Regions from separate parts of the Homo sapiens genome. Here regions 1, 2, 3, 4, 5 and 7 are each reported to be linked to region 6. Evidence: microRNA targets listed by miRTarBase, many of them from high-throughput screens and not tested one by one. Region 6 holds a microRNA gene; each other region holds the end of a gene's coding sequence.

What was found. The annotated mature microRNA hsa-miR-4659b-3p reads UUUCUUCUUAGACAUGGCAGCU and lies in region 6 at 2,375-2,396, opposite strand. An mRNA with a match to its seed (bases 2 to 7 or 8) in the 3' UTR can be bound and repressed. Matches are read on the target gene's strand: a 7mer-m8 pairs with bases 2 to 8, a 7mer-A1 pairs with bases 2 to 7 and ends in A, and an 8mer does both.
Region 1: the mRNA of ARID4B is a reported target of hsa-miR-4659b-3p. Seed matches in the 3' UTR shown: 7mer-A1 at 432-438 and 7mer-A1 at 1,771-1,777.
Region 2: the mRNA of ITPRIPL2 is a reported target of hsa-miR-4659b-3p. Seed matches in the 3' UTR shown: 7mer-m8 at 3,234-3,240.
Region 3: miRTarBase lists PLCXD3 as a target of hsa-miR-4659b-3p. Seed matches in the 3' UTR shown: 7mer-A1 at 1,448-1,454 and 8mer at 1,595-1,602.
Region 4: the mRNA of ATP1B4 is a reported target of hsa-miR-4659b-3p. Seed matches in the 3' UTR shown: 7mer-A1 at 2,763-2,769.
Region 5: the mRNA of ARFGEF3 is a reported target of hsa-miR-4659b-3p. Seed matches in the 3' UTR shown: 7mer-m8 at 3,090-3,096, 8mer at 2,651-2,658, 8mer at 2,473-2,480 and 8mer at 580-587.
Region 7: miRTarBase lists ANKRD49 as a target of hsa-miR-4659b-3p. The part of its 3' UTR that is shown has no 7-base or 8-base seed match.

The regions. Positions count from the first base shown.
Region 1 is chr1:235,164,730-235,168,797 of GRCh38, reverse strand. ARID4B (AT-rich interaction domain 4B) reads left to right here. Exons shown (of 24, transcript NM_016374.6): 24 at 146-1,896. The coding sequence ends at 273. Among named protein-coding and RNA genes, the nearest start is that of RBM34, 5.5 kb to the right of the region's middle.
Region 2 is chr16:19,115,623-19,119,622 of GRCh38, reverse strand. It overlaps ITPRIPL2 (ITPRIP like 2), which reads right to left. Exons shown (of 1, transcript NM_001034841.4): 1 at 1-4,000. The coding sequence ends at 3,554. Among named protein-coding and RNA genes, the nearest start is that of ITPRIPL2, 3.7 kb to the right of the region's middle.
Region 3 is chr5:41,310,051-41,314,130 of GRCh38, reverse strand. It overlaps PLCXD3 (phosphatidylinositol specific phospholipase C X domain containing 3), which reads left to right. Exons shown (of 3, transcript NM_001005473.3): 3 at 361-4,080. The coding sequence ends at 514. Among named protein-coding and RNA genes, the nearest start is that of C6, 99 kb to the right of the region's middle.
Region 4 is chrX:120,378,923-120,382,990 of GRCh38, reverse strand. ATP1B4 (ATPase Na+/K+ transporting family member beta 4) reads right to left here. Exons shown (of 8, transcript NM_001142447.3): 8 at 1-3,518. The coding sequence ends at 3,357. Among named protein-coding and RNA genes, the nearest start is that of ATP1B4, 19 kb to the right of the region's middle.
Region 5 is chr6:138,335,732-138,339,811 of GRCh38, reverse strand. ARFGEF3 (ARFGEF family member 3) reads right to left here. Exons shown (of 34, transcript NM_020340.5): 34 at 1-3,517. The coding sequence ends at 3,326. Among named protein-coding and RNA genes, the nearest start is that of SMIM28, 40 kb to the left of the region's middle.
Region 6 is chr8:6,742,801-6,746,880 of GRCh38, forward strand. MIR4659B (microRNA 4659b) reads right to left here and starts at 2,440; the gene lies at 2,368-2,440. The region is part of intron 5 of AGPAT5 (1-acylglycerol-3-phosphate O-acyltransferase 5); the gene reads left to right. It overlaps MIR4659A (microRNA 4659a), which reads left to right and starts at 2,364; the gene lies at 2,364-2,444. RefSeq lists enhancers at 1,655-1,934, 1,965-2,044, 3,657-3,706 and a silencer at 3,467-3,516.
Region 7 is chr11:94,497,933-94,502,012 of GRCh38, forward strand. ANKRD49 (ankyrin repeat domain 49) reads left to right here. Exons shown (of 3, transcript NM_017704.3): 3 at 139-1,646. The coding sequence ends at 600. It also overlaps a transcript of MRE11 not described here. Among named protein-coding and RNA genes, the nearest start is that of ANKRD49, 6.0 kb to the left of the region's middle.

The DNA of each region.
Region 1 (4,068 bases), not on the chromosome of region 6:
GAACTGTGAGAATTGACCACTGTTGTTGTAAGCTAAATGATTTTGGACAATATAGCGGAATTTTAGTTCAGAGGACTAGTATTTTCTGTCTATTGTTAGACATAAATTTTTATTAAGCTCTTGGTTTGGTCTCCCTTTTCCTTAGGTGCTGCTACATCCTCATCCTCCTCTTCACCTTCATCCAGTTCCATAACAGCTGCTGTTATGTTAACTTTAGCTGAACCGTCAATGTCCAGCGCATCACAAAATGGAATGTCAGTTGAGTGCAGGTGACAGCAGGACTTGCTAAAGCACTTTGCACTTAATGGCTGTTGAGGGCCACTTTTTTTTTATACTGCACAGTGGCACAAAAAAATATCAGACAAGCACTATTTTATATTTAAAAATTGTTTCTTGACAAGCTGACTTGGCACTTAAGTGCACTTTTTTATGAAGAAAAAGTACAATGAACTGCTTTTCCTCAAGCAATAATTGTTTCCAACTTGTCTGGGAATTGTGTGTCTGGTAACTGGAAGGCCTTCCACTGTGGCAAATGGAGGCTTTTCACTGCCTGTAGAGACAATACAGTAAGCATAGTTAAGGGGTGGGTCAGAACATGTTAAGATAACTTACTGTATATGTATTCCCTTGTATTTTGTTAAAGCTGGAACATTTGATATTTTTCCATTTATTTATGAAAAAATATGAACCTATTTTCATTTGTACAAGGTAATTGTTTTTTAAAGCAAGTCACCTTAGGGTGGCTTTAATTGTATAAGTCAAGCACATGTAATAAATTCAAAACCTGCAGTTAACAGGATATTAGACATCAATCCTGGTAACCAAATATTAAAGATTCTCTTTAAAAAAGACTGAACATGTTTACAGGTTTGAATTAGGCTAAAAGGTCTTGCAGTGGCTTTTCATGGCCCTTCAAATTGGAATGGAACTACTGTACTTTGCCATTTTTCTATAAATCAGTATTTTTTTTTAATTTTGATATACATTGTGTGAAAAAAGAAAATGGCTAATAAACTGTATTAAATCTTAAACAATGTATAAAGATTGTACTTAGCCAGTTCAAAGTGTATATTTATTCATAATGAATTATAACAGTTATATTTTTGTGTTTTCTTGTAAATGTTTCTTTTCCCTTAAATACAGATAATTCATTTGTATTGCTTATTTTATTATGAGCTACAACAAAAGGACTTCAGGAACAAGTAATGTATTAGTATGGTTCAAGATTGTTGATAGGAACTGTCTCAAAAGGATGGTGGTTATTTTAAATATAAATAGCTAATGGGGGTGGTAGGCCTATAAAATTAAATGCCTTGTATAAAATCCAAAATGAATGCAAAATTGTTTTCACTTGTATTGACTTTATGTTGTATGATTCCAATCTCTGTTCTGTTTGGCACTTGTATTTAATTCTTCACCTTTGTAAGACATTTGTATATTGTGGATGTGTTCATTCAAGCTATTTAATATCTGGCACTGTTAATACACAGTACTTTATTGTACAGACTGTTTTACTGTTTTAATTGTAGTTCTGTGTACTTTTTTTGGATGGGGCTGGCATGTTTTCTTTGTTTCCTGGCAATACGACGTGGGAATTTCAATGCGTTTTGTTGTAGATGCTAACGTGTCAGAATCCTTTACATTCAACTTTTCTAAGAAAAGCATTTTCAGTCTTGTAGTGTGTGCTTACAGTAACTAATTTTGTTGAAAATGGTTTCAAGTTATTCAAATTTGTACAGGACTGTAAAGATTTGTTGACAGCAAAATGTTGAAGAAAAAAGCTTATAGAATAAAAGCTATAAAGTATATATTAGGATCTGCAAACAATGAAGAATTATGTAATATATTGTACAAATGTAAGCAAAGGCTCTGAAATAAAATGCCATAGTTTGTGAATCCTTGATTTTTGTTTCTAAAAGATTTAGTAATTTTAGTTCATTTCTGTATGTGATGACTGACTGGAACATACATATCCAGCACGTATTATCACAGGGGATTAATTGATACACAAAAAAAGGAAGATTCTACCTATGAAAATTAAAAGTCCATTAATCAGATAAGGAATGTATTAGGCATTCTTTTTTTTTTTTTTTTTTTTGGACACGGAGTCTTGCTCTGTCACCCAGGCTAGAGTGCAGTGGCGCAATCTCCAGCTCACTGCAACCTCTATCTCCCGGGTTCAAGCAATTCTCCAGCTTCAGCCTTCCGAGTAGCTGGGATTATAGACATCTGCCAGCACTCCTGGCTAATTTTTGTATTTTTAGCAGAGACGGGGTTTCACCGTACTGGTCAGGCTGGTCTCAAACTCCTGACCTCATGTGATCCACCCACCTTGGCCTCCCAATGTGCTGGGATTACAGGCGGGAGCCAACACACCCAGCCTAGGCATTCTTTTATCTTTGCACACACTATTTTGCTTGAGTCTGAATTTAAATATTTTTCTTATCACTTGAAGAATTGTCCAAATTTGAAAATTAAGTGTTTTTTTTAAAATTTATTTAACACTTGAAACCATTACCAGCGGCTTTTTAAAATTTTTAATTTAGTTAGACCTTTCCGGGTCTTTTATACTTCAGTGTGTTCTATTGCACATTGCAATCATCTGGACATTGTTAAAAGTATATTCAGTACTCACACCCCACTCCCAAGGAGTTATATTTAATTGGTTGGGGGTAGTACCTGGATGTTGATCTTTAATTTTTAAAGGTCTCTAGTGATATTAATATGCATCTGGGTTGAGAAACACTGCTTTGCCGCAAACTTCTAAAAATCTATAATCTAGTTTTTTGGCCCCACTTATTGGACTTTCTACCAACAGAAAACCTTTCTTGGCTGGGCGCAGTGGCTCAACGCCTGTAATCCTAGCACTTTGGGAGGCCGAGGCAGGCGGATCACGAGGTCAAGAGATCGAGACCATCCTGGCCAACATGGGGAAACCGTATCTCTACTAAATATACAAAAAAAAAATTAGCCAAGCGTGGTAGTGGGCGCCTGTAGTCCCAGCTACTCGAGAGGTTGAGGCAGGAGAATGGCATGAACCTGGGGGGCGGAGCTTGCAGTAAGCCGAGATCGTGCCACTGCACTCCAGCCTGGGCAACAGAGCGAGACTCCGCCTCAAAAAAAAGAAAACCTTTCTTTAATACAGAGAGAGGCCGGGCGTGGTGGCTTAATGCCTGTAATCCCAGCACTTTGGGAGGTTGAGGTGGGTGGATCACCTGAGGTCAGGAGTTCGAAACCAGCCTGACCAACATGGTGAAACCCTGTCTCTACTAAAAATGCAAAATTAGCCGGTCATGGTGGCGCATGCCTGTAATCCCAGCTACTAGGGAGGCTGAGGCAGGAGAATCGCTTGAACCTGGGAGGCGGAGGTTGCAGTGAGCCAAGATTGCACTCCAGCCTGGGAAACAAGATTGAAACTCCGTCTCAAAAAAAAACAAAAACAAAAACAAAAACGAGAAAGGAAATCAACTTTTTTAAGGCCTAGAAAGCTTAAATACATATTTTTTAAAGCATCTTTGTGGTGGCCCTTTATTTTCACAAAAATTAGTTTAAGGGATGATATTTTAAATCTGTGGAACGGTGCTTCCCAAAATGAATTCCTAGAATACTGGTCCCTGGAAATGCTCTGGGAATTTATAACCAAATATATTTTGGAAAATCTATGTATAGCACATTCTTAGAGAATCACAGTGTTTGCATATTAAAAACTTTGAGAAGGCCTGTGAAGAGATACCTGCCTAATAACTTCCTTTACCCTACTGTTTTCAATCCCACCTAATCATGAAACCCTGTTTTTTGAGGAGCTCTTAATATCACATACTGAGTATGTTATAGAAACAGTGCTGAATAGGGGAATTATTCCAAATTTTGGTGGAGTCGAGATTTATGACTTTGTGCCTCTCTGTCTCGCCTGCCTTCTTGTTCTACGTCCTACCTTCTTAAGAGGGTTTGAGGATTTTATTGAATTAGTAGAATTGACCTATGTCTACTTCTGGTCACCTAAACTAGACTTTACTAAGTTAGTTTACAATTGACATATTAAGATGGTATGTTTTTCTTTTCTTTTTT
Region 2 (4,000 bases), not on the chromosome of region 6:
ACATACTCAGGGTGTTAACTACGTAAGGCAGTGGTCGCAAACTGGTGGCCCCCAGGCTCAAACAAATGTTTGGCCCACATGGTGTTTTGGACATTTTTTTAATTACTTGTTTAAAAATCATCAAGTTTCACTTTAAAAAAAAAAAACCTGATTTCCAGCTTGTTGCCCCATTTTTTTCTGCATGGCTGAGCAATGGCCCCCTCTTTAAAGGTGGGCACAGCTTCCCCCCCACCTCCCACCCCTGTTTCTACAGGCTGCTGAGTTTGCGACCCCTGGTTGGAAATAGCACTAAAAACATGTTTCCTAACCCAAACCTCTCTCACACCCTCACGCCATTTTCACTTCATTTCCCCTTCCCTCTCTTGCTTCACTTTCATCTTAAGTCCTCCTTCCCCAGGTCTTTGGATTTCTCTTGGTTCACTCGAATTCTCCTTTCTTTCAGCTTCAGTTTCATTTTGCAAAAAACATCTCCGCTCAGCCCACGATCATTCCAGGAAGGCTCCCAAGACTGGTCAGTGGGAGTTACCAAAGGGTGTCTCGCCACAAAATGACTGAGTCATCTTCCCCAGAAACATTTTCCTCCAGCACTGGCTGGACAACTAATTTTTTCTTTTTGCTGTTGTTACTGTGGAACTTCTTGCATGAGAATATTTGCATATATGAATCTCCAGTACCAAGCATACACCAAAAATGTGTACATTTCAGATGAAGGACATAACAGAGCCCTAATAAAATACAGAATTGAGCTTAATTTAACTGTCTTGGGCAACCATCATGCCTGGCTAATATGCCATATTATTTCCGTTGTACACAGTACATGTTTTGGTTTACTAAACATTGATCAAAATTGATCGAAATCTCTAAGTTTTGGTTACCATGTACAGAGAACAATTGCTCAGCATGGCATTTAAATAAAACAGTAATATTTTAAAAATTCACAAATACAATGCACAATTTATTTTAAAAAAATAAAATTTAAAAACCTTGAGGATGGATGAGGCTTTGGGTAATTAACCTGAAAAACAAAACTAACAAAAAACTACAAGAACAGTATGTTACCAGATTTATACTTTAAAACACTATTAAAAGAGGAACTCACTGACACTGCTAGAAATATTTCTAAAATTCAGCTTTTTAAAGCTTTTTTTTTTTTTTTTTGAGACGGAGTCTCGCTCGGTCACCCAGGCTGGAGTGCAGTGGTGTGATCTTGGCTCTCTGCAACCTTCACCTCCCGGGTTCAAGTGATTCTCCTGCCTTAGCCTCCCGAGTATCTGGGATTACAGGCGCCCGCCACCACGCCCAGCTAATTTTTGTATTTTTTAGTAGAGACAGAGTTTCACTATGTTGGCTAGGCTGGTCTTGAACTCCTGACCTCAGGTGATCCGCCCACCTCGCCTCCCAAAGTGCTGGGATTACAGGCGTGAGCCACCACGCCCAGCCTTAAAGCTTTATAATCCTTCCAACCCTTGATGTCCCCCACTGTAGTAAACAATGAGTACAGAGGAAGTTGTGGTTGAGTATGGAAATATATATATATATAAAATATGTATACATATATATATATATAAGATCTACTCTTGGCATTTATTTTAAAAACTAATTTTAAAAAATACCGTGCAGTTTCTATCTTTGCATAAAGTTAGCAGACTGACTTCTTTGCACAATGCAGTACCTTATGACCCAACATTGACCTCAAAAGCTAGGAATGACCTTTGCGGGGAACTGTCCCCAAGACAACCTCAAAGAGACAGCACAACATTTGCAGCTGTTTCTCTTTCAGCCCAAGGTCGCAAAGGATATAAGAAGCCAATGCAGCTTGGAGGAGAAGGATTCCTGTAAATCACTCACTATGATTTCCCACAGCAGGCAAGTGGATCCCCTAAAGAAAGAAGGCTTATAGAGTTCCCTCAAAAGAGCTCAGAACTTCAACAATGATTCTATTCACATAGGCATTTCTGTCTTCCAAATTTTAGCTTTAAGAGTCTGAGGAAGTACATGTTTTTATTTAGAAAACAAAAAAATCCCAATTTGTAACACTTGGACTGGCTGCATTTCCAATCAGGCAAGCAGATGAGGGGCCATGCTGAACTTAAACTGCAATTGAGGACTGTTATAAATTTGGGAGAACAAGGAAGAATTCCAGGACCGGCTCCTCCCAGCTGCAAAATACACCCAACCTGGTGATACTGACACCTAAAGAGAAAAGAGACAGACTGCCGTCAAGGGCTGTCTCCCTTGCTCTTTTCCTAATTTGTCTCCTCTGCCCACGACCAGGGAGTAACTGATCTTCAAGCACAGAGCCCAAGATACTGAACTATAAGTGAAATGTTTTGCAAGACCTGTGCTGAATCAACAGGTCTCTTGGACCACGTAAGACTGCCTGGACAAGGAAGAACCATCAATGGTTAGAGACCCAGCACAAACCACATGCTAAGCAGCAGGCATTTCCTCTTCATTAGCTCATTAAGCTCAGAAAGAAATCTCTTTGTGAAGGAGTTTGCTAAAAACCTTAAAACAAAAAAGTTTTCTGTCTCCAGCCAGCAGCCAGCCTTGGAGAAACACCTTTACAGGCAAAGCCTAAAACACATCTTTCTCCAAAGCCAACATGTTTTATGCCTTCACCAGTGTTGTCTTGAATATGTATTTGGTTGCTACTTTGGTTCCAGACATCTCTGGCTGGTAGTAGGTAGTTTAATGAATGGATGTTGACGGACAGGTACATATCCCAGCTTGTGGCCTGCGGCGATGTTAGTTAGGCAAGCATGCTGGCTGCTTTTCAAGGTTGTACATTTAATAATAAATATAACTGGCTTCCCTTTCAGATGCAATGCTTGGTGCTAGCAATTACCACAAAATGAGTGAATTGATCAATATAAAGTGCTATTTTCTCTGGAAGCTTCTCTAACCAACTCTCGATTGCCTTTCCATCTATGTGACTTAACTTGTTGACAATCTTGTCAAACACCTGTGATTGCACCATTTTAAAAATACATTAATATTAATTTGAACAGTGGAAATTATGTTCCTCTAAACATTAGCCCCTAAAATAGAACTTCAATTCCAGTTGCAAATAAAGATTCAGATTTTTCTTTTTAAAGACAATCAGGAACCCAGTACCTAGCAAGTAATTGTGTCAAAAACTTTAGTGTTTTGTTTTGTTTTTTTTTAATTTGGGCAGAGAGATCTGTGTCTAAAAACCGACAGAAGGAACTTTCCCTGCAGCTAGTTCTTGCTTCTTCTACTGGACTTCTCTAAAAGCCACATCCTTCTACAGAATCCGTCTACACAGAACAATATTTGAACCAATTCTTGGGTCTCCTGTTGGATGTCTTCCCATGGTTTGCCCAGGACACTCTAGTGGGTGTGAAGATGTCATATTATACTGGACTGTGAAGCGAGAAGGTGATATTTAAGCCACTAAAGCTTGTGGCAGCCACCAAATTTTCCAATGCCTTCTGCAATCTTGCATTTAACTGGCTTCACCGCCATTCCCACCCCCACCCAGTGGGAAAGGCTTTAGGAGCATTTGGTCAGGTGGGGGTGCTGTCAGGGTTTACGGTTCACCTTCAAGGAAGCCCTGGGTGCGCTGACTCCGGGGTGGGGGGCACCTGGCAAGGTAGCGGGGACCCCCGTAGGCCCGGAGAAGCTGGGGCAGCCTTTGCCACGTGGACAGCAACCGCGCTGCTGCAAGTTCCCGGGCGTGCCCGTCGAAAGCGGCCAGGAGGTCAACTGGGGCGGCTTCCCTCAGTGCCTTGGGCAGGGGACCCACCTCGGCAGCCGCCCCACCAGGGCCCAGGACGCAGTGGAAGAGCGTATGGCGTCGCAGCAGGCAGTCCCTAAGGAACTGCACCAACTCCTCCAAACACCTTCCCAGGTGCTCCTCGTCCCAGCCTTGCCCAGGGGCCCCCTTGCGCAGCAGCACTGCCAGCAGCACTGTCTTGAGCACATATGAGGATAGGATGCGTCCCCACTGGGTGGCGGCCGCTGAGTCCAGCCCACG
Region 3 (4,080 bases), not on the chromosome of region 6:
TCATCTCTGACCTCCCCAATCCGTAGTTTTGCAGGGTTTGTGATGACACCATGTTAAATCAGAATACAAATGCAAAAATGTTGTTTTCTTAGTAGGGAAGCATCATTATAAACTATCACAGTATCTGGGATCTGCCGAGATGAGAACTCCAATACGGATCAATATAGTGAATATTTCTCCTGCAGAGTTTCTTCAAAGGTTAAAAAATCCCCAGAGTCCATTTGGCCTTTTCCCCTTCCTGTACCTATACGTGAAACATTTATTTTAATAAGCTAGAAACTAAAGGGAAGACTGAGAATTGTAGAGCTTGAAAAATAGTATCTTGCCTTCTGTGACTTTTCTTTTTGTTTCCTTTCTCAGAGCTCTTCCTGCCATGATGCAGTGGGTCCGCACGCAGAAGCCAGGAGAGAGTGGCATCAATATTGTCACTGCCGATTTTGTAGAACTTGGTGACTTTATCAGCACTGTCATAAAGCTCAACTATGTCTTTGATGAAGGAGAAGCCAACACTTGATAGCACTACTTGGAGTTTCCATGAATAAGATGGAGAAAGCTCATTGTATTAGGGCATACTATCTGTAAACACTCTGATCTTCCTATTCCACTGAGTCTCTGAAGGGAATAGGGCTGGTAGTGGGTGGGAAAAGGGGAAAAACTGTTTCTTCAGTGATTACAATCATACTCTTCATTACTATAAATATTTCATTTCCCATTTGATGAGCAAAATCTACTTCTAGTGTTAGGAATAAAAAAAAAAGACCAGTAACTTTGTTTTTCAAAATTAGTCTTTGTAACATAGAATTCATGAGTGTTTACTTGATTAGGTTCTCTATTTCCAGCCTATGACTCCTACGCTGTCTATACCCTGCAACCTTTCTGCTCCCTCTCTTGCTCGCTCTTTTTAATCAGATGCTGTATGGGAATCAAAACAATTGAATGCCCAACATTTTGTGTATTACATTGTTGTCTTAAAACTTACTAGTTTTGTGGGACTTGTTATAATGCTCTATAGTCATCCACAGTTGGGCAATCATAGCTAATTTTTGGTCATAGAAAATCTGCATCAAATCAGTTTCCATGCATCAGTAATATTGAAGGTCATAATCAGTGATTTTTGTTATATGAAAATAATAGTGTTTCACAGTATTTCTATTTAAGGCAGCTATAAATATAGGAGAAAAATGTTTTTGGAGAGCTGTGAATGCCAATTTCAGAGGGAAAAATGGTTGAGGGGTGAAAGAGATGTATGGCATTTTAATTTGGCAATCTCTTAAATAATATTGCCCTGCAAGTACCCAGTAAATGGTAAGGTACAAGTGTGTTAAAATTGAAAACTCTGAAAATAACTCTTTAAAAAGCCCTCTTAATGATGCTCTTGATGAAAGAAAAAGACAGAAGGAAGGAAGGAAGGAAGGAAGGAAGGAAGGAAGGAAGGAAGGAAGGAAAGGAAGAAAGGAAGGGAGGGAGGAAGGGAGGGAAGAAGGGAGGGAAGGACAGAAGGAAGGACGGGAGGAAGGAAGGAAGGGAGGAAGGAAGGAAGGAAGAGAGGGAGGGAGGGAGGAAGAGAGGGAGGGAGGGAGGAAGAGAGGAAGGAAGAAGAAAAAGACTGCAAGCTTTCCTGCCAATTTGGGATTTTCAAATATTTAATTCTAAATTCCAGATTTTAAGGAAGATTTTTCAAGAAACTGCAAGTTTTTGACTTGAAGGAAAGAAAGAGGAAGGCTGGTAGAAGCAGTTAGAGCAATGTGTTTGAAATTATGTCCATGAAATCACAGGGATCTCTGAAATATCTTTAGGAAACTTGAAATTTATGAGGTCTGAATGGACTTGTTTAAAATTGGCTCTGACTCCTCACTTCTGAGTTTCATCCTATCCGAGGGATGAGATTAAGGCAGAGGCAAAAGTTTCACACAAAGTTTCTGCAACCTAACGTTTAATAGTCCGGGTCTACAGGGAAGAACAATGACACAGCTTGAGCGTTACTTCCTCCTTCGTGTCATTGTGATATTTGACAACTCTAAAAAATAAAAAAAAAAAACTTAGAGCACAATAATCCTTGCCTATGTACTTCACAGGAATATTGTGAGGTGTTTATAAAATTATAAAATTTGATGAAATTCTTACAATTATTAATTATTTTATTTTCATGTTTAGAAATAATCACACCCCAATAGTTTCCTAGGATAATACAGTCCATGCAAAGTAGGGTCATAGAGAAATAAAAGCATGCCCTCAGCTTTTAATGAACTTAAATGTAGCACATATGGCTTAATCTCTTAGACTTAGATAAGGGAGTTCAATTCAAAACCATATATGTCAAGACCACAAATAATCAAGAGTTGATTTCAAGATTATAAATACTCATGATCAGAAAATAGTACTTATTAGCAATTAAAGGGAGGAAAAGAAATTGTTTATACTGAAGAGAATGTTTATGAGGAGTGTGTATGTACCTGTGGTATACCAAATAGCATACATGTACACACAAAAATGTGTGTATACATTTGGGTTGTGTGTATACATCTTGCCATATACAATATACAAACATATGCCCATTCCTGTGATAGCATACAAATTCAAACATACAGAAACACACACAGATATGGACACAGTACAATTCTTCTTTTCAAATGAAGACATTGATAATATTAAATAATTTAATTTTAAGACTGAAACCCTTAATATTGTGTGAAAAAGAGTAATAAAACCTTTGAAAGTAGAGTAGATGATCACATCAAAGTATTTTTGTAAAAGAATTCTAGTGTAGGACTTAATTATTTTTAAAATATATTTCTTCTCTTCTTTCCATTTTCCCTTCCCTTGTAGTTTTATTATCTTTCTGTCTTTTACACCTGCTCTTTATGTGAAAATGTATATGAATCCTTTTAAAATGATTAGGATTATTGAAATGTATGTCCCGTAAATTTGGTTTTTGGGCAGACTTTCTCTCTAACTGGCTATTCATTCATCCTTCAGGAGGATCTTAGCCAAGAATATTTGCAATGACACATGAATTTAATTTTATAAATATAATGGAAAACAGATTTTTCATCATATCATGAATAAAATATAGAGGTAACTATGTTGTATTTTCTTGAACCTAGATACTTTCTCATAGTGTTTGCTTAGAATTAACTTTGTCCTATTTGTCAACTGGGTTCTGGAAAAAAACAAACATGATGAAGCTTTTGAATAATTGTGCAGTTTTTTAACTAGGGAAAGCTTTGTACTGCTGCTAATGATATGCACCCAGAAACCTTGTTAGACAAAAGGCAGTTTCAAGCCAATGCTATGGTTTCCATGTGGACATACAGTGCCTATGTAGCAGGCACTTAGAGTAAATGGACTTGCCTTAATTTATAAAGGAGGGAAGAGGTAGAAGGGAACCATGGGTCCTCCAGCTAGAGGGGGAGTTTACTAAAAGGGAGTCCTTGGAAAGGGGAATGGAGAGAAGGTGCCTTTGACTGTCTTCTATCCATTAGTTCTGCCCTGGAGCACACTGGGGAAGCAGGCTGCGGGCCTTCCAAAAGTAAAAAATGGTGATATGCAATCGAAGCTTATCCTTAGCCTATGCACATTTGTCTCAGCTGGGCATTGTCTTTTCAGAGAGCTTGTAGCACAAGGGCTACACATGGGCGCCAAGATGGTGGTAGATACACCTTGGTGCACTTTTTGTTTTACTTGTTTCTTAAGACTATTTCACAAGTCCTGTGAGGCAAAAAAACAAAACAAAACAAAACAACCAAACAAATACAATCTAACTTTTACCCAATCTACAGCAGGAAATCAAAGGAGTGGGTGGAATGAGAGAAAATATGCAAAGAGATCATTTTTAAGTTTGATTTCCTGTCTGTAATTTTCAAGGACTAATATAGCAAATTTTTCTTCTGCCATTATCATTTATGTCTCCCTATTTACCACACAATAATGTAAATGCAGAGAATGAGGAGGCATCTTTTAAAAGCCTTAGGATATTCTATATGATGACCTCAATATTGACTTTCAGCCATACTGGGAAAACTTACTTTTCATGGAGTGCCACCTAACAGTGAATGTATTAGAGTATAAAATGTTTGCCAT
Region 4 (4,068 bases), not on the chromosome of region 6:
ATCAAATCCTGATGCAGCACGGTATGGGGAACTATTTAAATTAATCTACTAGAAGTCTATTGAACAGTTAGAACATAACTTTAATGAATATATTATCATATCCAGTTCTGTATAGTAAACCTACATTTTTCATGTCCTAGCTGACAACCCAAACTATCTTAGTACCCTTCAATATTGCTTTGCAATTGTGGACACAATGGATTCCATTGAAAGATAAATATTATTTGACAAATGATTCATAATTCCTTGTCTAATAGTCAATGCATTTAACAGGATAATGTATTATGTATAAAGTATAGCACCAGTAGTTGAATTCCTGTGAAATGTTAACTATTTTAACTCAAAATTTACATACGTTTCAAAATGTTTGGGATATCATTCATTGATTTTTAAGAAGATGGTACTTTCTGGTAAGCAGCAGCTCAGAGTAGAAAGAGCACTGGACCTGGAGTCAGATGCAATGCAAGTTGTTTTTTCTAAACACTCTCTAATATCCTTTCCAGATCTAACATTCTATTATCTTTTACTACTGAATCTTGAGAGTTTGATTGAGGTAATTTTCAAGTGGTTTAAAAGTTATTGTCTTTTTCATTTTGTTCCTTTTCTTTTTAAAGGTTAGTTTTGAAAATTGAATTTGTTAAGAAAATGGGTTGAGAGGAGGCAGTTTCATTGTATGTTTGTTTGTTTTTGTATTTTCCATTAACCTACTATAGAAGATCCTATATCTTCTAGAACTTGTTAGTAGTGGTTGGCCTCCCTTTACTGTGTCAATAAGACTTTGAAGGTGTCTGGGAAGGAGATTCCAAAGAGGAACAGCAATTCTTTCTGCCACAAGAGAAAAAACACTGTTAGGGACTAGATTGGTATAGTATGTTTACATGACTGGCTTCAGTTCCCAAGATTAAATAGCTTAAAATTTCTTAAGCGAGTTCCCTTAACCCAATGTTGCTTTTGTTCTCATCTTTCCTTCTCACCAACCCTACATGTGTTTACATCTCCACATCAATGTCTGACCAATAGAAAATCATGTCTAAAATGTTCAAAATTGATCTCTCCAAACCTGCTTCTCTCTTATATTCCCAGTCTTGATCAACAATGTCACCATCTTACCGGTTCTAGCCAAGCTCAAACCTTTGGAGTCATTCTCCAAACTCCTCCTTCCTTATTCCCCATTCCACAGTCTTGTCCTTCTCCAATCACCCTTCACATAGTGGTTGCCAAGTGCCCTTTCTAAATTGCAAGCCGGGTGCGGTGGCTCACGCCTGTAATCCCAGCACTGTGGGAGGCTGAGGCAGGCGGATCACTTGAGGTCAGGAGTTCGAGACCAGCCTGGCCAACATGGTGAAACCCTGTCTCCGCCAAAAATACAAAAGTTAGCTGGGCATGGTGGTGTGTGCCTGTAATCCCAGCTACTCAGGAGGCTGAGGCTGGAGAATCACTTGAATCCGGGAGGTGGAGGTTGCAGTGAGCCGAGATCACACCACTGCACTCCAGCCTGGGTGACAACAGCGAAACTCCATCTCAAAAATAAACAAATAAATAATAAAGTAAAATAAAATAAAACACAAATGTGATCACAGAGCCTCCCTGATTAAAATGCTTTAATTACTCATTTTCACCTATTGGATAAAACTCAAAGTCCTCTTTCCATCCCTGAATACCTCTCTAGCTGGATCTCTTGCCATCCCTGCCATTCCTCTGAGCCCTTTTCATTCCAGTTACATAAACTGCTCACAGTTACCCAGACACACCATGGTCTCTTCATGACTGTGGCTTTGCATGTGAAATTTCCTCTGCTACTTTCTTAGCTCAAGATATTTTTCCTCATATTCCCATAGCTTTCCACATACTAGTTTTTTAACTCTCATTAAACTATATCGTATAACTTCTCCACTTGCTTGTCTTCACTACCAGACAGTCAGTTCCCTGTTTTGGGAGAAAGGAAACATTGTAGAGGAGATTCAGACTTTGGATCCTCCTAGGTGGCATTTAAACTTGCTTCGGACCCTGAGACACTATACTATTCGCTGATGCTTGCTTTTTTTTTCTCCTTGTGCCAGCCTTCCCCCTGGTGGAGGTGTTAAGAAGCAGTTGAGTGATCAGGTGACCAAAGATAAGACAAAGTGACCTGGCTGATCCACATCCTGGATAAGAATCTGCCTCATGTCATTTTTAAAGTAAATGCTAAACTGGCTAATGGGCCTTGGCTTTTGCCTGGCCTGGCAAGGAACGTTCTGTCTTGTCATGTATTCATTGACAGATTATGATTTCAATTTCCAGAGCTGTAGCTGCTGGTCTATGTAACCACCCCTGATGGTCTCAAAAAACATCATGCTACTGTCAAACAAATAGCCCAAGAAGAATTAGCTGGTGGGAATCTTCTTCCATGTTGTCTCCTCTGCCTGAAGCTGAGAAAAACCTGTTTGCAGGAATGTTTGCCTTTAGACGATTACACCAGAGAGCAAGGAATCAAACACCAATCATATCCATATGCTAAGTGTTCTCCCCAGTTGCAGTGAGCCCCACCTCTTTAAAAAGTCACAAGGACGGTCTTCATCTCTATCCCAGAACAATATCCTGTTAGCACTGCTTTTTTCCCAGTTGAAAATAACCTAGTCTTTGAATAAGCACTTAGTTGTCTGTGGGAGGCAGAAGTTTCTTAGGCACCAGGATATAGAGGTCTTTAGGTATAGCGGTCTTGGTTGTCTAGGTTGGACCGAGTGGTGATTCCCAGGGAAGGACCTTGCCAGGCAGGTTTTTTTTTTCTTCAGAGACAGGATCTCACTCTGTCACCCAGGCTGGAATGCAGTGCAGCTCACTGCAGCCTTGACCTCCTGGGCTCAAGTGATCCTCCTGCCTTAATCTCCTGAATAGGTGGGACTACAGATGCATGCCACCACACCCGGCTTAGGCAGATTTTTTTTAAACATGTGTTAGGTTATTAGCCTGGTTGGGAGGAATCTGACCTCTAAAACCAACAGAATTTTAGAAAACATGATGAATTTATAATCATAATAGAAATTCTCCTTGATGGCTATTGCGTGGCTATTGTAAATTTTATCAGATACTATGTTTACGCTACAGGGAGATTACCAGCAGCAAGAACAGGCTTTAGTTTTAAGTGGAGGGAAAGGAAATTAATATACTCTGTTTGTCATCAGGAGACACTACCTTTAAAAAATCGAACAGCTCCCACAATGTCATTTTATACACATGTCATAGGCAAGGAAAGATGATCGGCTGTCTTAGATGTCCATCTGGCTGTGTCCTAATTGAAGAAAAAGAATTCAGGTGCTACCAGAGATACCATGAGATAAAACAGAAACAGAACTGGTAAGAATGGCCCCCTGAAGTTCTTAAGTTTCTATGTTCAGGGTAAAGATTACCCTGCCCACAAAACGATCATTGATGACATCATTTATGACGCCTTTGCCCTTCAGTTGGCACTGCACAGGCACTGCTTGGTTCTTCACCACGTCTGTAAAGTGCATTGCCACCAAGGGGGATGTGTAGTTAACCTGCAGGTAGAAGAAAAATGAATTCTAAGTGTGGGGAGGTGGTAGGAGGGAAGTGATCAGATAATCACTGCAGGATGACAACCCTCACAAAGAGAACTGAGTAAATCCCATGATGCCAATTTGCAAATGGCCAAAGCAACAGACATACTCTCCTTGCAGTGGGAAAGTGTGGGAAAATCATACATTTCTCTAACAAGTCACTGTCAGATATCTGATTGTCCTCTGGGAAAAACCAATTCTGATTCAGCATGATATGATTTTTCTGGAAATCAGACCATGAATTAAACCAAAACTAGTGTCTATCGAGTCCCTGTGTTGGGGACTCACCCCAGCGCTTCAAATGGGAGAAACAGAAGCGTGATTATTAGGGCATGTTTAAGCACATTGGTAGTAATTTATCTGCTCCTGACCCTGCCACTAACTTAGCTGTATGGTCTTGGGCAAGTCACTTTCTGTCTCTGAACCCCAATTTTCCCATTCGTAAACTTAAAAGGTTAAATTAGGCCATATATGAGATTCTTTCAGATATGGAAAGGAGTGTGGTTGTGAT
Region 5 (4,080 bases), not on the chromosome of region 6:
GGAGAGAGAGAAGGTGGTGTAAAAAGGCAGCCTAACTAACTATTTTTAAAAGCAGATCAGGAGATACAGGAGCTAGGTGAGATGCTGTGGACAGTGCATGAGGTTCAATTGTGAAAACCGATGTCCTCATTAATGACAGAGAGAACTCTGTCCCTCCATATACTTGGCTGGGCCATCATCAGTCCAGGGTCTCTTATACTTGGAGTTTTCCAGATGTTTGTTTCATGAAGCACACTTTACCAAAATTTAGGAAAAGAAGAGAAAGATCTCAACTTTAAGGTAATATACTTTTGGCTATAAATACAGGCAACTAAAAACAATGTATAAACTCTCATTCTGCTTAGGTCTGTAAATACATGCTAATAACTGTTCGTAACTTTAAAAGGCTGCCTTGAATTTTGTCTTACTGTTGCTGCAAAAGAGACTGTGAGGAGAGAAACACCTGACACTTTCAGAGACTGGGAGGGAGGGAAACAAAGTTGGGGGAGTGGGCAGCTGAGTCACAGGAACAGGGCAAGAGACTGAGCTGGGCAGCCTGGGAAGGTGCCACTCCCCTCTCAGTGTTCTTCATCTCCTCCCTTTCTTCTCCACCTGCTGGGAAGAACCACCTGAATGCCTACTCATTAGAGACTACTTTGCATCAAGCTGCAAATACCTCTGAGAAGTACTGCTGTCACTCAGTGATGGTTCTGGTTGAAATCTGATGTCAGTGTGGATGGCTGGTAACTCGAGTGCAGAGTATGTTAGGACTGAGTTATAGAGAAGACAATGGGAAGGTACCAAAACACTCTTAAAAAATTGTAGGTCAAGAGCTCTGTACACCTACTCATCCTTTTATTCTTGGGACCCATAATCAGGCTAGAACTAGAACAGTGTTTGGACACAGTACAGGGTAAACTTATGTTCAAGAATTTTGGATCCCATAATAGAGCATCGGGGAGAATGCTGATTTCCAAACAAACAACTAACATACTTTGGGATACAGTATTCACTTTTTTTTTTTTTTTTTTTTAGATGGAGTTTCACTCTTGTCACCCAGTCTGGAGTGCAATGGTGCAATCTTGGCTCACTGCAACGTCCGCCTCCTGGGTTCGAGCGATTCTCCTGTCTCGGCCTCCTAAGTAGCTGGGATTACAGGTGCATCCTACCACACCTGGCTAATTTTTGTATTTTTAGTAGAGACGAGGTTTCACCATGTTGTCCAGCCTGGTCTCAAACTCCTGACCGCAGGTTATCTGCCCACCTTGGCCTCCCAAAGTAAGTGCTGGGATTACAGGCGTGAGCCACCGTGCCCAGCTGGTATTCTCAAATTGAGACAGCTTCCTTTGAATTTTTCTACTTTATGAAAAGTTGCTATGTATAAATACTGTAATTCTAGCCTCTGCTTTACTGAAGCCTTTTCCCCCAGTAAACTGTGGAGTACTCACAGGTTCACAAAGAAGAACTGAACCTCAGGTAAGCTATAAAAAGAAACAAAGCAACTGTGGTGTTACTTCTGTTGGAAAATTTAAAAAAAGCAGTTATCCAACTTTCAATTCCATTTATAAAATGTAAAAATTCAAAAGTATACAACATAGTTCACTGATATCCCAACAATTCATTGCCTTTTAAGATCAAATAGCTGATTACCTGTTTCTAAACTTGAATTATTGTCTAGTGAGTAAAAACTGAAGGCAAACAGAGTGTTTTGTGGAACTGGGAAAAAAATGGATTCTGTGGTGATCTCTAGATGGTACACTGGATGATAAGGGTGTTTTTTTCAGATCACCTAAAGAAGTCAGAACACTGCCTTCCTCTTAACCTCTAAGGTAGTTCCATATTTCTCAAGGAGGGCAAAGTTTACAAATACCCCTTTAAATCCTTATTTCAATACTGTAGAATTTGTGTCTTATATTTAAAGGGTGACTTATTCATTATGAATGGGGCTGGGAGATTATAATGTATGCCTTAAATAACTCTGTAGAATGTGTGTAAGTAAGCTTGATTGAGGAGTTTTCAATCATTAGGATAATGTAAGAAATATAAAAATACTGTAAATAATAAGATAAAGCTTTCAAACGTATTTTCTAGTAATACTTAGAAATATCCACCTGAAATATTGGTCTGAATGCAAAGACATCAAACATAGGGTAACTTTACTTGGTAGATAGGAGAAATATTTTAAATCGACAAAATTTTCTAAATTTCAGTGTCTTTCTCCATTACTTTCATTTTGAGACTAGAGCTTGTGTAACTGACACCATAATTTTGCAAGATTGTTGTATTATATTTTAAGATTGAAAATGATTTCATCATAATCCATCCCCACCCCACACTCCCTGCTCCCTTCCCTGAGTCCCTTTCCTCCAAGCGTGTTGATATAAAATGAGTTGCGTCTTAATGTTTTGTTTTCTTAAAAACCAAATGCTATACCTTATGTTCAGACAATTGTGGGGCATGGAAATGGAAGTGCAACAAAGGACTAAGGCACCTTTTCTTCTTTCCTTTCCTTTCCTTGTTTGCCTTGGGGATGGAAACAAACACCACAAGAACAGCCAGGGTGGCTGGTCGGTCTTATGTCTCTTGACAATCTACGTACCAGCCACTTTCACTGGGTACTCTGTGTCACAGGCTGATAAGCCACAGACTTCAAACCCTGCTAGGAAAGAACTTTCTTCTTTTAGAAATACAGAAATAAAGGTACAACACAGTACCTTACATGGGGAAATTGGTGAATACCTGAAAATCTTAATGATTTAGGAATAATTTTGAAGTGTTCTGGATTATTTTACAACAGAAGTCACCTCTTTCTTGATTATGACACCCAAGAATATGTATTTATAGTTGTCTTCTTCCCAGCCAGACCCATAACCATAAATCTTCCTCCAATTAATAATCCCTGGTACTAGATGTCTGAGTGTTTATCAGCTTGACTTACCAGCAGATATTGCCTTAGGAATTGTATTTATTTTTTAAATGATGGATCAAATGGATCAATATAGTGTTTTCAAATGAGTAATCCTTGAAAATGACCCATTTGGGGACAACACTGTAAGCAAAAGCACTGGGAAATATACTTCAAGAGTTAGAAACATATCAAGGATTATAGATTCTTCTATAATAATGTGCAAAATCAGAATATCGTTTGTGTCATCTAGATACAAACCTTAGTATGGCCCCAATGCTGATCAGTGGTTGGAAAGGCTTTTTACATTAGGAAACACTGTTCTCTGAGACAGTAGTAGTAGTTTAAGTGGGGCTAGTGGTGGGGAAAATGCAACAGCTGTATTGGCAGGACTCTAACCCTCACTACTGTTATTTGGTGGGAGAGTAGAACAGGAGTCGGCTACACAATGATGTCATAGACACGGCCCACCCTGCCCAGCCACTCCCTCACAGCCTGGCGAACTCTGATGTCGGTCACGTGACAGGTCAGCTGACTGATGCACGGGAACACTGCGGGCTGGAGGGCCGTGAAGGTCTGGTCTGGGAGAATCTGAATCTGATTGAGAACTGTTAGCACCATGTTGGTCCATGCCTAAGAGAAAAGATTTAAGAAAATCAGTGGCTTTCCCCCCTGGTTTTATTTGAACACTTGAGAGTGGCCCTGCCAATGTGGAAATGGTTTTTTTCCAGGCTTTAGTTGCAATAAATTAGTTTTCACTCATTTAATATGCCTATAATAAATTGTAGGCGTATTAATTTATTATGCCTACATCATAACTTCACATACATAAAGATGGGCAGAGACTCGCCTTATTTTCAGCTTTCACAAACTACTAAACTCTTACTTATTCCTTAGATTTAAAAACAACAACAACAACAAACCTCCCTTGCCTTCTCACAGTGAGATCTCCACAGGCCGTTAATCTCAAACTCATTTTTTGATGCACCATAGAATTACACTCAAAGCCTCCCTGAAGAATGAGAATTTTTATGTGCACAGGATGGGCTAGAAAAACTTGAGATGAAAACAATTTGAAAAAAATTCATTGGCATAACCACACAATATTTACTTTGCTTTTTTCTTTTATATAATGCTTCATAACTACAGAATTTCTTCAGGGCCATTTTCGAATGACACACTAAGAACTCAATGCT
Region 6 (4,080 bases):
AACACATGTCCTATTAAGTAAGGAGTGTTTCAGAATAGGAGGGTTCAGTTGGTCTCCCCATCTGCCAGCTCTCTTTTGACTTTCATTGCTTCCTCTGTCTAATAGACATGACGTTCTGTCATTTCAGTTGCTCTTTTGCAATGCCATTGTCTCTTTTGCCCTTTTCACATTTATTAAACAGAACAAAACAAAAACCACTCTCGAATCTGTAGTCTACCTTTGTTGTAAGCACTTTTTCCAGTACTCACTCTGCCCTCAATTTGTTTTGGTCTGATTTGAAATTCTCTCCCTAGACTTCTGTGGGGCTGTTCTCCATTATCCTCCCAACTCTCTGGCGATTACTTCCTAGCCTCCTTTCCAGCCTCTTTCTGCTTCATTTCTCCCTGCTACATGTGTTATTTCCAGTGTCAGGTTTTGGTGTTTGATTAATTTCACTTTTTGTTTCTCATGGTGGCCTTCCTCTAAATCCATGGCTTTAGCCATCGTTTCCTTGACTGCTGATGACTCGCAAAAGCTTCCTCCCCTCCATGTCTCTCTGCCTAACTCTGGACCCATTTGTACAATTGTCCATTAGAGAGCTTCGCTTGACTGGCCCAAAAGGATGTCTCAAACTCAGCATATTGAAGATAGAATTTATCCTTCCATGCATACACTCATATTTCTTGTCTTGGTAACTCCATCATTCAGTTTTTTTGCCTAAGTTTTATTCACAAAAAGAACAAATTGATAGCAGTTGCATACCTCTTATAGGAAACTTAGACATGGAGGAAGAAGCTGTTCAGATGGGGTCCTGCAGAAGTGCAGGCACTGTGGTAATATTTAAACTTTTCTCAGCTGTTCGAAGGGTTTTGTTTTAACTAATTTTCCTTAGACTTGTTTTAGGTATTTGGCTTTCTAATGGTTATAAGGGATGTGGAATTAAATGTATCTTAATCTGCCACCTGGACCCATTAAAGTAAGCCCCTATGGTGGTTTTTTTTTTTTAATTGCCATGGTTAAAACCATAGTTGCTAGCGAAGGTGACATACTTAAGCTTTTTGAACTCTCTTAAAAGAAAACAGAAATTTAATGATGTGTCTATAATGGCAAACCAGATACCTAGAATTTCCATGTTATTCATAGGGTGAATAACACTGGCGATTGTAGAGATTTGAGAGTTCTTTCAAAACAGGAGAACAAAGGGAATAAGCTACAAAGCAATTTTTTTCTTTGTAGACTTAACTGAATAAAAATTATTTTTATGTCTCAAACATCATATGAACAAATTTAGTTGGCAAATGGCAAGCTAATAATATTTTATAATATAGGATATTAATATACTTAATATTACAAAAGTGCTTCATAATTAGAAAAGACATAAACTAGAAAAATGGGAAAAGGGCATGAATAAGAAATTCAAGAGATACAAATGACCCACACACTTGAACAAATGTTTATTCTTTCTCATAATCAAAGAAGTAGAAATTAAATGAATACTTTGAAGCCAACTTCTGAGAAAGCATAGCAAACAAGAAAGCTAGTGCTCAGCTTTGTGTGGTAACGGCACTCTCGCTCTTAAGAAGGTGTGTTTGCTCCCTGTGGCTGCTCTCAGGCAGGGCCACAAACTTGGTGGCTTAAAACACCACAGATTTCTTCTCTTACATTTGAGAAGTCTGAAATGGGTCTTACTCAGCTGAAATCAAGGTGTTGGCAGGGCTGCAGTCCTTTGTGGAGGCTTGGGGGGATCTTGTTCTCCTGTACGGGGTCCTGTGCTTGGTTCGGGGTCCTGTGCTTGGTCTGGGATCCTGTGCTTGGTTCGAGGTCCTGTGCTGGGTCCAGTGCTCTGCTTTTACCACCTTGAAGTTCATCTGGAAATGGCACTGGCTCGCCCACACCATATAGCTGACTCTGGTTCTCCCTCCTCCTCACTCGCTCTAAACCTGTGTTTTTGGCTGATTTCTAATCTCTCTTTCCTTGGCCCTTCTGCAGCTTGCAGGGCCTTCTGCAGCTCTTGTCTGCCCCAGCCCCGGGGTCTGCCCATCCCAGTGCTGGGCTGTTCTGTTCCTGCCCTGCCTTTCCTCAGCCCTTGGCAACCCTGTTTGTTTTCTCCCTTCCTTAGCAGTGGAGAACATCGTAAGATCAATGCTGACTGCCTTCTGCAGCCAAGCCAGGCCATTTCATTTCAGCCGAGCCAAGTCTGTGTGGAGCAGTTCTTTTATTTTTCTCCTTTTGACTACCTCATGGTTTTCACGGATTTTTGTTCTCTTCACATTCAAGGATTTTTTGCTTTCAGAAAGTTATATTTCTCTGGAAAGAGTGCACCCAATATCCCTTTTGATTTCAAAATCTTAATGTGGAGTCTCTTGACTTGGATTTCTTTGGAAGAAACTGCTGAAGCTGCCATGTCTAAGAAGAAAACTTTGGAGAAAAATTTTCTTCTTAGACATGGCAACGTCAACAGTTTCTAAGCTCTTGATTCCGTCTACCCTGTCTCCATCGTTGCCTCAGTCATCTGCCTTACTTCTCTGCAGGGGTTTCTCCCAGCTTGCAAATGTACTCCAATTCTGAAATAACTAAGTCTATAGCTGTGCAAAGAGAAGTCTGGGCCCCTTGCTTTCTTGTGTTTGACTCCATCCACTCTCCAGAAATGAATCCCACTTCTCACTTAACCACTGACCTCCAAAGCATCGTATCATTTGTGTCAGTTGTCATATTTGTTAACTTTCACATAACTTTTGACATTATTTATACCTTTATAACCAGGAAATAATTTTAACTTTATTGTAGAAATAAACAATGGAGTATAATTTTTCTTGTTGAAGATAAATATCACCTCCTCTTCCTTTAAACATCTCTTCCCTTTGTTTTTGTATTACATTGGTTTCCCCCCTTTTTTTATTTCCTGGGTTGTCGTATTCCCTGTTATTATTTTTACCTTTTTTTTTTTAATGTGGATGTTTCCGGAGTCTGTATTTCTTGCCTTTTCATCTTCTGCCCTTTATTATTCTCAGCCACTGCCATTACTTCAGTTATCCATTCCCATGGTTTCCACATGCTTAGCTTCGGTTGATTCTTGCCATTTTACAGACCATATTTCCAACTACTTCTAGAATGTTTTGTTCCTTCAGCCTCAGTATGCCCAATTTGAACTCATGTTCTCTCTCCCCCTTCTTTCTTCCTTCTTTCTTTCGCTCTCTCTCCCTTCCTTCTTTTCTTTCCCTCCCTCCCTTTCTTCCTTCCCTCACTCGTTCTCTCTTGCTTGCTTGCTTTCTCTCCTCTCTCTCTTTTCTTTCTGCATTCTTCTCCCTCCCTCTCTTCCTTCTCTCCCCCACTCCCCAACTTCCAGGCTAAAGCAGTCCTCCTGAGTAGTTAGGACTACAGACATACACGTGCCACCGCGCCCGGCTCCGTGTTCTCTTTGTTTCCCTGCCTCCTGCTCTTCCACTTATCTTTGCATGGCAGGTGGGTGCACGCAGGCATGCTCTGCATGTCTTCCTCTTGGCCATTCCCCTTCTAGTTATGGTGTGGCTTTATCTACGCGTTCTGGAGCAGAAGCCTAGTCACAAAGCTATTTTTTTAAAACATTCATGATAATTCATTTCCTTTTATGTTTTAAAAATACTAGCTTTCTGTCTTTATTTCCTTACTAACTTACTTGGATGCCAGTAATTAGTTGTTTTAGTGAACACCACAGAGTGATATTTTGAAACTTTGGACTTCATAAAGTTGGATGAGCTCCAGTAGCAAAGAAGGAAGTGTTAACTAGTTTAACTGACAAATAAATGCTTCCCAGCTTGGTGTGCGATTGAGATTTTTGTTGCAAGTTTGTGAATCAATTTAACTGCCCCTGCCCTGGGGACTAAAGTCAGATACGTGCTTGTGGGAATCTTTGTCTTTCCCACACCACCCTGCATTTTAAAACCTCTTGTGTGGGACAGTCCCACCATGTAATAGCTGTTCTTCCTTACTCAGCTACTTTCCCTCCAGAGAGGCCAGTAGAAAATCTAGACTAGTTTTTTATAGTCTATTTTCATGTCACTTATTGAGAGCTACTGTTTTCTGTTAAATTGTCAGTAAATATTTTAATCAAGGAAAAGGGAG
Region 7 (4,080 bases), not on the chromosome of region 6:
ATTATTTTCATTTTAAAGTCATCTACTAACAAGTAAGTTTTTATTCAACTTAATTAAATCTAACACCACAAGACAATTTTGTTTTAGTTATTGTTTTGGTTTGAGTTGAGTTGAAAGATTTCTTTTTTTTCTTCTCAGCTTACCACAGTGCGGAGACTCCTTTCTGAAAAGGCCACTCACGTGAACACTAGGGATGAAGATGAGTATACCCCTCTTCATCGAGCAGCCTACAGTGGACACTTAGATATTGTTCAGGAGCTCATTGCACAGGGGGCCGATGTTCATGCAGTGACTGTGGATGGCTGGACGCCCCTGCACAGTGCTTGTAAGTGGAATAATACCAGAGTGGCTTCTTTCTTACTGCAGCATGATGCAGATATCAATGCCCAAACAAAAGGCCTCTTGACCCCCTTGCATCTTGCTGCTGGGAACAGAGACAGCAAGGATACCCTAGAACTCCTCCTGATGAACCGTTACGTCAAACCAGGGCTGAAAAACAACTTGGAAGAAACTGCATTTGATATTGCCAGGAGGACAAGTATCTATCACTACCTCTTTGAAATTGTGGAAGGCTGTACAAATTCTTCACCTCAGTCTTAACAATTCTAGTAATTTTCCTAAGTTTCTAAATACCAGTGCCTCCTGTGTGTGAGATGTATTCCCATAATCAAAGTTGACGTCAAACATCTTACTACAAAAATTCAGTGACATTCATTATAACATTCTTCCAAGTGAATTGCCTGACTTTGATGTCAAAATGTATTTGAAAGTAATTTGCATATATCTTTAATTATTTCTGTGGAGTTTGTGATTTTTTTATCAGAAATAATTTTAATGTGTGTATACTTAAAAACTTGACACGGGTTGTACAGAAACTGGTATTTTTGGTGCTGATACAAGAGAAATGTATTTTTAAATATCCCACATCCTGGATCTTTGTTGGGTATTTAGTATATTGACATATATTTTTATAAGGTGAGGTAACTCAGAACTTAATTTAAAAGTCTTAAATATTCTGATACAATTCAGCTGTCTTCTCTACCTTACCATAGCCAGTTGCTTTCATTTTAAACCAGAGCAAGTAACATATTAGTGACTTGAATCTTCATAAGTTAAAGTAAAAAACAGCAAAAAACCTAGATCTTTGTCTTTTAGAACACAGACCATTTTCAGGAAAGCAGTTAGCTAAGTGTTTAATTCATGAATATTGTATACTGCATCCCCTACCACAATTTACACAATCCTGTGGATAGTCCTACCTCACCCTGGTCAACCTACATGATCCTTAAGCTAATGGCGAATCACGATGACCTTGTAGACATGCACACAACTATACCTTTGTCCAACAGATCATAATATATCTGCTATCCAACTGGTTTTACCTGCCTAATCCTACTGATTTGGGCACTGCTTGTATAGTCTCTCAAGTTCACAGGAAATGTTGATTTTCTAAGGTCCTCATTTTTACAGAGTATACAGGCAAAGTGACAGGGGAAAAGGAATTAGTCTAAGAGTAAGGGGATGATTATTATATTGAGGCTAAAACCACAAAGTGGCTCAGGCTTTAAAAAAAAAACACTGTGGATAATGACAAAAAGCATAAGTAAAAATATTTGAGAAAAATAAAGTACAAGTTTTGAACAACACAAAAGGCATGAATTCATTTTTTACCTGTGTATGTCTTTCTTGGATCCAGAACATTATTCATCCAGCACGCACTTAGTTATTTAACATCTACTCACTCAGTCTCTCCAGCAGCAATTTTGCATTGTCTATCTAGCCCCCCTGTGATTGTTCCCAAAGTTTTGTCTTCTCAACACCACAACACTCCAGGGGAAGGGAACTAAACCAGTTGCTCTTTACTTCAGTTAAATTTTTAAGATGTCCACCAAGGCTTATCTCTTTCAAGCCATCCTACGTAACCCAGTCACCCTAGACTAAGTAATAATGTTATTTAATCAAAGATTAAATATTTATTTTTGCTTAGAACTTATTAGATCATCTCAGAAAAGTCAGAGATAATATATGAACTGAATCATCGTGACAACAGGATCTTGAGAGTTAGTGCTTTAGTTTATGTTGTGATCTCTTCCTAGGGAGATGCTTTGTGGCAGAGGTTGCTTTCTGTTTAATCTGGCCTAAGTTAGTGGCACCAAATGACAGATACAGCTGACAGGCAGTGATGATAGAATAAGACCTTATTTATCCAAGCAGACTGCTGAATGAGGTTGCTTAGCCTGAAAGTCACAGAGCTGATGGCTCCTTTCTCACTTGAGAATGGATTGTACCCATGATTCCATGTAAACTTTCCATTAAAGTATGGAGCCAAAGAAGTCTTGTTTCCAATAAGGACCTAAGATGTGTCTATTCCCTTGTTTTCAGACCTCAACACTCACTCACTGATGCTAGAGAGCAAACTCTACACATAAGACAAATCCCACCCCTGAGGGCAGAATTTGTATTGTCTGCTTCCTTTATACTTTCCAGAGCATTCACTAGACTGCTCTGTGCACAGAAGGCAGTCACTAATCGTGCTTTGAAAGGATTACTTCTACTTTCCAGTTTAGGCCGGCTAAATAGCTCAGTTTACAAACAGAATTTTCTCTAATCTTGGAAAGTCTATACAAAGACTTATTAAAAAATAAAATCTGAGTTTTTCATAACTAAGGGTTTAATTTTGATTAACATATGCTTGAGGAAGAGGTAATTTTTGTGACTGTTCAAGATTCATAGCGTCATTCTTAGGCCTAAAGTGGAACTAGTTGCCTTTGCTTTTATGAATCTTAAATATGCTTTTCCAGGGAGCCTTCCAACCCACAGCCTACCACAGTGGTGGGATTTAGAGTCTTTATACTACAATCTGAAGACATTTATTTGTATTATTTGACATCTATTATGTTATCTAACACTATGCTGGAAAATCATGATCAGAAGAAGCCCAGAGACTATACTGAGATTTATGTCCCATACCAAAATGAAATCTCTGGATCAACTCTTGATTCCTGATCAACACATACACCATCTTCACCCTACCTGCAATGGCTCTAGGAATTTATGCAACTGCCTACAAAATAATATCACCAAATCATTATGTCTTTGCTATAATTAGTTTATCATAAGATGCTCCAGTCCATCTGTAGGATTACTAGATGACCACTCAATTTGTTCAATATGAAATGCTTTCTCTAAAGGATATTTAAGGTCTATCTTTATTAAGTTCAGAAGAGAGTAAACCAAGAAGGATTAAGTGTAGCTGATTGATGTTTTAAATTCCTGGAAATTTCCCTTGGAAACTCCAAAATTTTACTTCTCAGAACCTAAGTGGAAATGATCTAAATCAGTGCCAACACATAGAAACATGGGCCTCATGTAATTTTATGTTTTTAGCATGACTATTTTAGATACCTCATATAAGAGGACTCATGCAATAAGGACAGAATTGCATTTTATGGCACACAAACATAGATAAGCAAAAATCCTAGCAGTTGAAAATCGTAAGAGCCATATTAAAAACAGGTGAAATTAATTTTATATATATATGACAATACATCCAAAATATGAGATATATATTTAAAATTTTTTGAGATGTTTTACTTTTTTTTGCAGTAAGTCTTCAAAATACAGGGTGTATTTTACAGCACATCTGGATTTAGTCACATTTCAAGTTCTCAGCTATGTTTGTCTAATGGCTACTCCATTGAAAGCACAGATCTACATGCCTGAAATCATTCCCTGGAGGCACAGAAGGATGGTTACACAGAGCATTAAACTCTGAGTGAGACAAACTGAGTTCAAATCCTCAGTGCCACCTGTGGGTCACTTTGGGCAAAAAAAAAAACCCCTCGGTTTTCTCATAGGTAAATCAGGGATAATATCTATCTTGTTGTAGGCTAGTTTGTTATTTAAATGTAAAAATCATATGGTGTTATTTATTTTGTCAATTTCTTTAATACTTTAAAAATAAATATCAATATGAAATACATCGAAATCATATTGTTTTTTTAAAAAGCTATGTGTTTATCAATGTCCTCCAGTCATCTTTTATGAATGAAATAGTCTCATCTGATCTTCATGAAAGTT